2 separate regions of the Homo sapiens genome follow, and region 1 is linked to region 2. Evidence: fine-mapped expression QTL. A gene starts in region 2. The other region holds a variant in brackets. All regions are shown on one strand. Distances are between the middles of the regions. Region 1 overlaps ZNF706 (zinc finger protein 706). Region 2 holds the start of ZNNT1 (ZNF706 neighboring transcript 1).

What was found. PIP is the estimated chance that this variant, and not a neighbour inherited with it, causes the effect.
Region 1: its variant is fine-mapped to the expression of ZNNT1 in whole blood (TOPMed, PIP 0.96).

What each region holds. Positions count from the first base shown.
Region 1 is chr8:101,192,910-101,197,312 of GRCh38, reverse strand. ZNF706 (zinc finger protein 706) reads left to right here. Exons shown (of 4, transcript NM_016096.5): 4 at 1-261. Among named protein-coding and RNA genes, the nearest start is that of ZNF706, 11 kb to the left of the region's middle. The variant G/A (reference allele first, on the strand shown) is at 2,194.
Region 2 is chr8:101,167,537-101,171,939 of GRCh38, reverse strand. ZNNT1 (ZNF706 neighboring transcript 1) reads left to right here and starts at 1,701. Exons shown (of 1, transcript NR_164368.1): 1 at 1,701-4,403.

The sequences.
Region 1 (4,403 bases), 25 kb before region 2:
TTTAATTTGAAGATTCTTTAACAGATTGCAGCAAAGTTCATTATAAAACTGTTATGGTGTCTTCAAAGACTTGATAAAATAACACTGAGAGAGAATTGGTCCATTTGTATGCTGTATTTCTATTACTTGCCAAAAGGAATGGGGTTAAGATTAAACTTGTTTCCATTCTCTTCACATGGATATTCATCCCCATGTTTAACTGACACACTGGGGGCTCAGTTGTGTGCTGTAATGTCTTATTAAAGAAGATATTAAAGAAAACTAAACTAGTCTAATTTCTTCTACATTTTAAGAGGTTTTTATATTCCCACTTTTTTTTTTCTCCTTTCTGAGCTTAGAATTGGCTCTTAAGTATAGGTTGGTAGATTTGAGGGTAGCAAGAGATTTCTTTCATTTCTCGTTTTCCCTGCAGTCTTTCCCTTTTTGAGGTCTGTAGAATACTTGGGTGGAAAAAAACTTGTCATTTTGAAACCTTACTGTATAGAATAAGTGTGAATTGTTGGAAAGGGGGAAGTGATTGGCTATTAACATAAAAATACAATTATGAAAAATACTTAGGTCAGTTAATTGAATTGGATGGGTAAGTCCTTGATGATATTGTAAGATTTGAAGTTTTAGTTTTATATTAAAGATACTATATAGGTAATTAATGACATCATAATTCAAACCTGAGATGCAGCATAAGATAGAATTTATCAACATTACTATTTTACCTAGGAAAACCCATGTTTTTAATTTTCATTAATATATGTAATGTGGCCAGGTGCAGTGGCTCACGCCTGTAATCGCAGCACTTTGGGAGGCTGAGGTGGATGGATCACTTGAGGTCAGGAGTTCGAGACCAGCCTGGCCAACATGGCAAGACCCCATCTCTACTAAAAATACAAAAATTAGCGGGGCCTAGTAGCACATGCTTATAATCCCAGCTACTCAGGAAGCTCAGGCAGGAGAATGGCTTGAACCCGGGAGGCGGAGGTTACAGTGAGCCAAGATCTTACCATTGCACTTCAGCCTGGGCAACAGAGCGAGACTCACTCTCTCTCTCTCTCTCTCTCTCTCTCTCTCTCCATATATATATATATATAATATACTGTACCTATTTTTAAATGTGGATAAAGGCCTTTTTCTATAACACAGTGATCAAACACAGTCCAAACTATAACTGAAATACTATATTTAAACCACCCAGTCTGAATTAATTCATTTGTACTAGATTTCTGGTTTTTTGGAAAGTGTTTGGTTTAGTTTTGGTCAGAGTACTTTTTTGGTCATGTACTTTTTAACAGTATATGGCAATGAAGATCAACACCAGGGAGTTGTGTTTACTGTGACTTCACATTCTGAAATAGTTTAGGCTACCTTAATTTTATTTATTGTAAAAGTTTCAGAAAAATCTTAAGAGCCTTCAGTTTGTAGGTTTAATGAAAACATCTGTCTACTTAACAAAGAAAATAGACTTTTTTAAATAAAAGTTCAACCTGTCATTTTTAATTGTAGATTGCCATGTTAAATTGAAAATATTTTTTATTTTAAATGTTGTTTTGATAAGTTTTTTTTACTGAGGTATCCTTCTTTTTTTTTTTTTTGAATAGCCATTTTTTAGCTTCTATTCTTTGAATACCGTATGGCTCCAAATTTAAAATCTGCACATTCGGAGACAGACTTTGGTCATTTCTTTATATTCACATGGGAATATCTTCAGTATGAAGTAATTGTTAATTCTGTCATTAACTAATATTATTTGAGGGTTGTAGGGAGGAAGAATATCTTTATCCCAGATCTTTCTAGGATGAACTCTTTGAGAAGTTTAAGTCACTAAGGTATTTATTGAAAATCATATATGTGAAGTTGCATTGTGAGCTGTAAAGTATTATATAAAAGCAATGTATTATACAAAGAAATATAGCAAAGTTCCCTAATCTTTGGAAATTCAGATGCATTCTGGAGATAATACATATATTTATTTACATAATTTTAGGCTATATGGCCAAGTGCTTGGTGTGTTTTATAGACAATAACTTAATGAGGTATATGTACATGTGTGCGTTTATGTGTATATAGGATGGCTTTGGGTTGAAGAGGGCAGTCTGTGCCTGGAAGTATGGGGAGTCAGCTGAGGGAGGAGTAGGAAGGAATAGGGAAATCAAGGTGTGGGTGGCTGATTGAGCAAAAGTACATAAAGTTTCTTTGAGA[G/A]AAAGTGAGTAGGCAAGCCCGAGCACAAGGCTTGTGAATGAGAGCCTTTGATCCCGTGGATGAGAGTGGGGAGAATCGTTAGAATGGGACCAGATTGTGCAATGCGTGCACACTGCAGAAAATTGTTCAAATTACTCCTGACACTGGGGACTCTTTCAGGGTTTGGGAACGGGAGTGACATGATGAAAGTATGTCAGGAAGATTTATATTAATGAAATACTGTGTCGATACTGGTTTGATGGAGATCTTCTTACAACCTCTTGTATGTTTCTCTATTTAACAGTTTACTATCATAATACAACTTTTGGTTATTCTAGGTTATTATGAATATAGATTAATGGGCAAGAATTTTGCTGTGCTCTAATGCAGTGATACTACTAATGCCCAAAAAGCTGTATTTAGGGATGTTTGTCCCTGCACTAAATAACCCCAGACTATAGTGTGGCTATACACGACATTTCTTGTCTTCTACTTCACTATAAAAGTAACACATTTTGAAATATATCTCATATATAAAAATGTGAAGACTGTGGTAAGGTTGGATTTTACAAATTGACCAGTACAAAACATTTTGAGGAATAGTATCCATGTCTGTCTCTCTCTCTCTCTCTCATTCTTACCACATAGATTTTTTTAAATTAATGCATGTTTTTGAATTTTGTAGTCACTTTTTTCATATTATGTCTTTGTACTCTGCCATTTCATTTAACAACATAACAGGTGGGTTTTTCGTGTTATAAACTGTGCTAAGTGGAATTTTTGTGGCTGCATAATGATCCATTGGGTAGATTACCTGTAGTTTTTTTTAACCATTTTCCTGTTGTAGGACATTTAGGTTTTCTCTTATTTGTGCAGAAGGCTTCATTTCTACATTTAGAATTACACATCATAAAACTTTAAAGCTCTTCTGAAAAGTGTACAATACTTTATTAAAATAGCAAATGAGAGAGAACCAGAGTTGCAGACCGTATAGTATATAGGACCAGGCAATACTTGACCAATGATGTTTTGCATGTTACTGCATTACCTTTGTTTGAATACTAGCACTTTTTCCTGAATTTGGTAGGTTAACCCTTGTATATTTCCTTGATTTCTAGTGGAGCAGGAATATTTTAACTGCATTTGTTAGCCAGATACAGTTACTATTTTGTGAATTGTCCATTGCCCATTTATTTGTTGGGGCCTTCTGACTATATTCAATCTGCTATCCACAGTAAACTTGGAACAACTGAGAGTTGCCAGGAAACACCAGATAACTAGAGTTATGAAACCTGTAACTTATTTTACACAGAGAACAAAATTGTAGGCTCTGTCTGAACCACTTGCTGGAAGCCTTAACTATCAGATAAAGTATAAATCCACAGTTTGCATTTAAGGCATATTTTTTATTCAAGACTATTGAAATATGTTTTTTATTGTTACCTGACTACTATGAAGAAATAGTATTTTTATTAGATTAAGTCAGTTTAGTAAGTTACAGTAACAAAATAACCTTTCATGTTTGGGATCTGTCTTTTATTAGGTTCTATTATTTAATATTTATGTATGCGGATTTTCATAGTAACAAAATAGACTGTATTTAAGCCTTGCTTTGAATAGCCAGGAACATTTCTGATAGCAACAGAGTTTCTTACTTAAATAGGATAGAAAATGGCCAAACATAAGAATTTAAAGCTGTAGTCGAATGACCCAGTGAGAAAAATGGAAAACACCTAAGTTCAAATCTGGCTCTGCTTTTTCCTTTCTCATTTTGGACAGGTTACTTCACCTTTCTGAGTTGCATTATCTTTAGTCACCTTATAAAATGCAGGAACTGGCCAGGTGTGGTGGCACATACCTGTAATCCCAGCACTTTGGGAGGCCGAGGCGGGTGGATCACGAGGTCAGGAGTTCAAGACCAGCCTGGCCAAGATGGTGAAACCCAGTCTCTACTAAAAATACAAAAATTAGCCAGGTGTGGTGGCAGGCGCCTGTAATCCCAGCTACTTGGGAGGCTGAGGCAGAGAATTCCTTGAACCTGGGAGGCAGAGGTTGCAGTGAGCTGAGATCGTGCCACTACGCTCCAGCCTGGGCAACAGAGTGAGACTCTGTCTCAAAAAAAAAAAAAAAAAAATACAGAAACTAATACCTCCCTCAAATGATTGTTTTAAGTTAACAAGCAAATGAAATAATGAGTATAAACACCACCTGTGCAATCATAAATGCTCAAT
Region 2 (4,403 bases):
TGCTAATGTAAGATGTTAAAGAACTGTCTATGGTTAAAAGAGAATGAGTATCTATTTTTAACAATGTGCTAAATGTTCTTTTCTTCTTTCCATGGTCCAAGATTGTCCTAAACTTTGATTTGATATAATTATTTTCCACAATCCTCTAAGTCAGGCTTTGAAATTCTTCTCTGCCTCTGGGTCTTAGTTTGCTTTGAGGTAAGGATGGCCAGTGTGGATCTTTCTTATATAATCTCTAGGTCTTATATTTTAGTTTCCTACCTGAAAATTTGTGATGCCACTTTTAATCTACGACGGTAAAGGAAAACAATTTCTCTTATATGCTATTTAAGAGTTAGGTATTTAAGATTAAAGGAACTATGTATAAATATCACTTATCCAGAAGTCTTCTGAATATTTCATTTCTCATGGAAATGCTGGATGTTTTTAAGCAACATTATCCATTATAAAACAATTCAAAAAGGGGGAAGAAAATCCTACAAAGATAACAAAAACTGTGAGGTTTTTTTTGTATGAAGTAGCCAATTTTCACAAAAAGTGCTGTTAGCGGTTTATAACACTGCTAGGAAATGTATTTTATATTAAAAATCGCTAACAGCACAGTCATTGTTTTCAAGATGCTTTAGAATGGGAAGAAATGTTCAATCTTTTTAACGTGTATCGGCATGTATAGGGTGTACTCTTTTAAAGAAAAATTTCAACTATTATAAAATCTAAGAAACTTTAAAACTGTGTCATTTATAATGTAAAATTAATGCAGCTGAGATTCAGTGGTTGACTCATAGCTCCCACATTCATCTTCAGTTCTCTTTAGCTCATATGGTTTTCTTTAAAAATTAGTGATATCAGCTAAATGGAACTATTTTCCACTCCTACCCACAGAGAAAAGTGCTTTTGTGAACATGTCAGCTCTGTTCCATCATTACATGCCATCATGCAGTGCAACAGAAGCAGGCTGGCTGTGCATACTTGATAACCAATATTAGTACAGATTTGAGAGCAAAATCCAAAGAAGATAATACTGTATTTCCATCTATTTATTTTATGCACATAAGCCACCTTTTTAGAACCAAGGAATTTTATAGCTAGACAAGATCTTGGAAGTCTTCCAATCTAGCCTCTTTATTTTGTACATATGGAAACTGAGGCACAAAGAGGTTCAGCAACTTCCCCAAGGTCACATAGCTGGTAGAGGTAGGCTGGGACTAGAACCCAGGTCTGTGTGACTCCAAAGTCTGTGCTCCTCCCACTATACTGCTTCACAGATAGGAGCTGATCTGCCTCAAATCTTCTGCCCCTTGGCCTTTCCACAACTCTGCATTGCTGCCATCTAACAGTGCCTTCCACTGGTGCCATGCTAAAGCTCGTTAGGAGGCAACTTAACATTGTTCTGTAAAAGCTCTACAGATGTAGGATGCTAGCTATCTGTTCTCCCCGGAAATCTTTTCAATTCAATTCTGCAAATAACTTAGGCTTTCCCAGACTAAGCAGTTCCTTCTCTCATTCCTGCAATTTGCTTTCCAGTTACCTTCTTCTGGACACATTCATTTCCAGTGCCCCTTCTGTTAAAATGGGCCCCACTAGAATCTCTGTTGCTGGGCACGGTGGCTCACGCCTGTAATCCCGGCACTTTGGGAGGCTGAGGCGGGTGGATCACCTGAGGTGGGGAGTTCAAGACCAGCCTGACCAACATGAAGAAACCCCATCTCTACTAAAAATACAAAATTAGGCAGACATGGTGGCACGTGCTTGTAATCCCACCTACTTGGGAGGCTAAGGCAGGAGAATCGCTTGAGCCCGGGAAGCTGAGGTTGTGGTGAGCCAAGATCGCTTCATTGCACTCTAGCCTGGACAACAAGAGCGAAACTCCGTCTCAAAAAGAAAAAAAAAATTGGCCCCACTCAAAATGGTACTCCTCCAAGTTGCTTTTTCATCCTTGTATTCCCCATGGTCATTCATCCCACTGCTGTCCTTCTGTCTCCAAGTCCTCTTTGCCTTGCTTCCTTCCCTCTCAACCCACAGCATCAGAGCAGTTTCTCCCCCAGCTGACCCTCTTTCCACTTTCAGTGCTCAATATTTTTTACTTTGCCTGTGGAAATGATCTCTTAACTGGTTTCCTTAAGTCCCTCCAGAAATGTTTTTCTAAACTCCAACAACTGTGCAAGGTCTAATTGCCATTGGTTTATCACCCACTGGACCCAGAAGCACCATCCTGGATTCTGCTTCTGCATACCCCTGTCAGCTCTGTGTCTTTAGGGACATCATTTAAACCTTCAGCTTCACTTTCTCCACTTATAGAATGAAGATGAGGAACAAGAACATCAATCTTTGAAATGATGCCAAGTATAAGCCTCTGTGTGTGTGTCTCCCCACTCCAATTTGTCCAACAGACTGCTTCCAAAGAAATCTTCCTAAAACACTGACCATCTTTTTTTTTTTTTTTTTTGGCTGCAAAATCTTTCATTTCCTCATCCCCTCACATAACTTCCAATCTTCTTGGCCTGGCACTAAGGACCTACTACAGACTGGCACTGAAATATCTTCCCTACCTTATCATTCCTTGTGCTTCTCCACAAGCCCACTCTTCCCCTTCATCATACATGTGCCGACCTTTCCTGTCTCTTTTACTTTGCAGCACCAAATGCTTTCTACTTTGTGGTCTAGGAGGAACACATGTCACTTTTGTAAGCTGCTCGAAAGCAGGGGCCACACCTTCATCCTTGTTTTCCACACAACACCAAGCACTTAGTAGACACCCAATAAATCATTGCTGAATGAATGTATTCAGCCTGGAATTGCACTAGGATTTTTTGGCCAACACATTGTATTCTTAACTGATACCAGACTTCCAATCAAATAAAATCCTTAAGCCTTTTTCATAGTCTTTAATTAAACTACTTCTCTTCCATTATTTCCCTTTGCCTACTTTTGAACTGATATTCAGAACTTTTCTGTTAATGTTTAATTTTCATCCATTATTCTTGTCTGTACAGATCTTTTTGATTTTTGACTCTCTTATCTAGTTTTTTTTTTTTTTTTTTGGCTTCCCGTTGTGTTATCCACAGGCACAATGGGTATATTGACTATCGTTCATTGAAGTTGTTGATACAAATGTTGAACAGGAGAAAAACCAGTAGCTTGCCAACTTGGCACCTCATTCTCTAGCTTGACAGTAATCTCTTATCTAGTAGTTTTTAGATATGGTTATTTAATCAAATATCACTAGCTTCTAATTTTGTTATAATTCATTCATGTATACAGACAATGAAGAATCATCTTTCTTCATTCAACACATTTATTGGGAACCAATCATTGTCCAAGGCAATATGCTAGGCATTGTGTAATAGAAAGCGATTAAGCTTTTACCCCTGTCCTCTTTGGCCTGCAAAGAGCAGGTAAGATTCATGCACAGACAAATGTAGTACCAGGTAAATAGTGAGGCCAAACACAAGAGGCAGGTCAAAGGGCTTTGGATTCAGAGGATGGAGAAGCTCTTTCTAGGCTGGTGAAATATTTGCAGAATGAGTAGGCTCATAAGTGGAGGTGAGGTACAGGCTAAGCTGCTGTAAGAAAGAGTCCAAAATGCAAAGGATTTACCACAATGCAGTTAATTTTTCTCACAACGGTCGAGGTAGGCAGGTGGTCCAAGTCCAGTTAATCAGCCCTCCTCAACACAAGGCTTCCCCTTGTAAGCTCAGGATGACCGCTCCAGTTCTCATCATCTCCCAGGCAGAAAAACGGGAGAAAGAGAACTAGACGTACCACCCAGTCATTTTAAGGACATAGCCAGGCCAGGTGCAGTGACTCACATCTGTAATCCAAGCACTTTGGGAGGTCGAGGCTGGAGGATAGCTTGAAGCCAGGAGTTTGAGACCAGCTTGGATAAGAAAGCAAGACCTTGTCTCTACAAAAAATTTAAAAATTAACCATGTGTGGTGGTGTGCACCTATAGTCCCAGCTACTCAGGAGGCTGAGGTGGAAGGATCACTTGAGCACAGGAGTTGGAGGATACAGTGAGCCATGATCACACCACCTCACTCCAGCCTGGGCAACATAGTGAGACCCCATCTCTTTAAAAAACAAAACAAAAAAACATCACCAGGAAGTTGCTTACATGTCTTCTATTCCTATAACATCGGCCTGAGCTTAGTCACATGGCCACACCCAGCAGAAAGAACTCTAGGAAATATGGTCTTATGCTAGGTAACCCCAAACCCAGCTAAAACTGTTGCTTTTGAAGAAGGGTGAAACAGACAATGTGGAGGAGAATTACCAGTCTGCCACAAAGAGAAAGAATTCTATGTGAGGAAAACGCTCTAGAAGAGGGAGCTGATTAATTAGTTATATCTCAGCCGAGAGGATGTTATGAGAAACACAGATTTGGGTTTAATAGAAAAACTTAG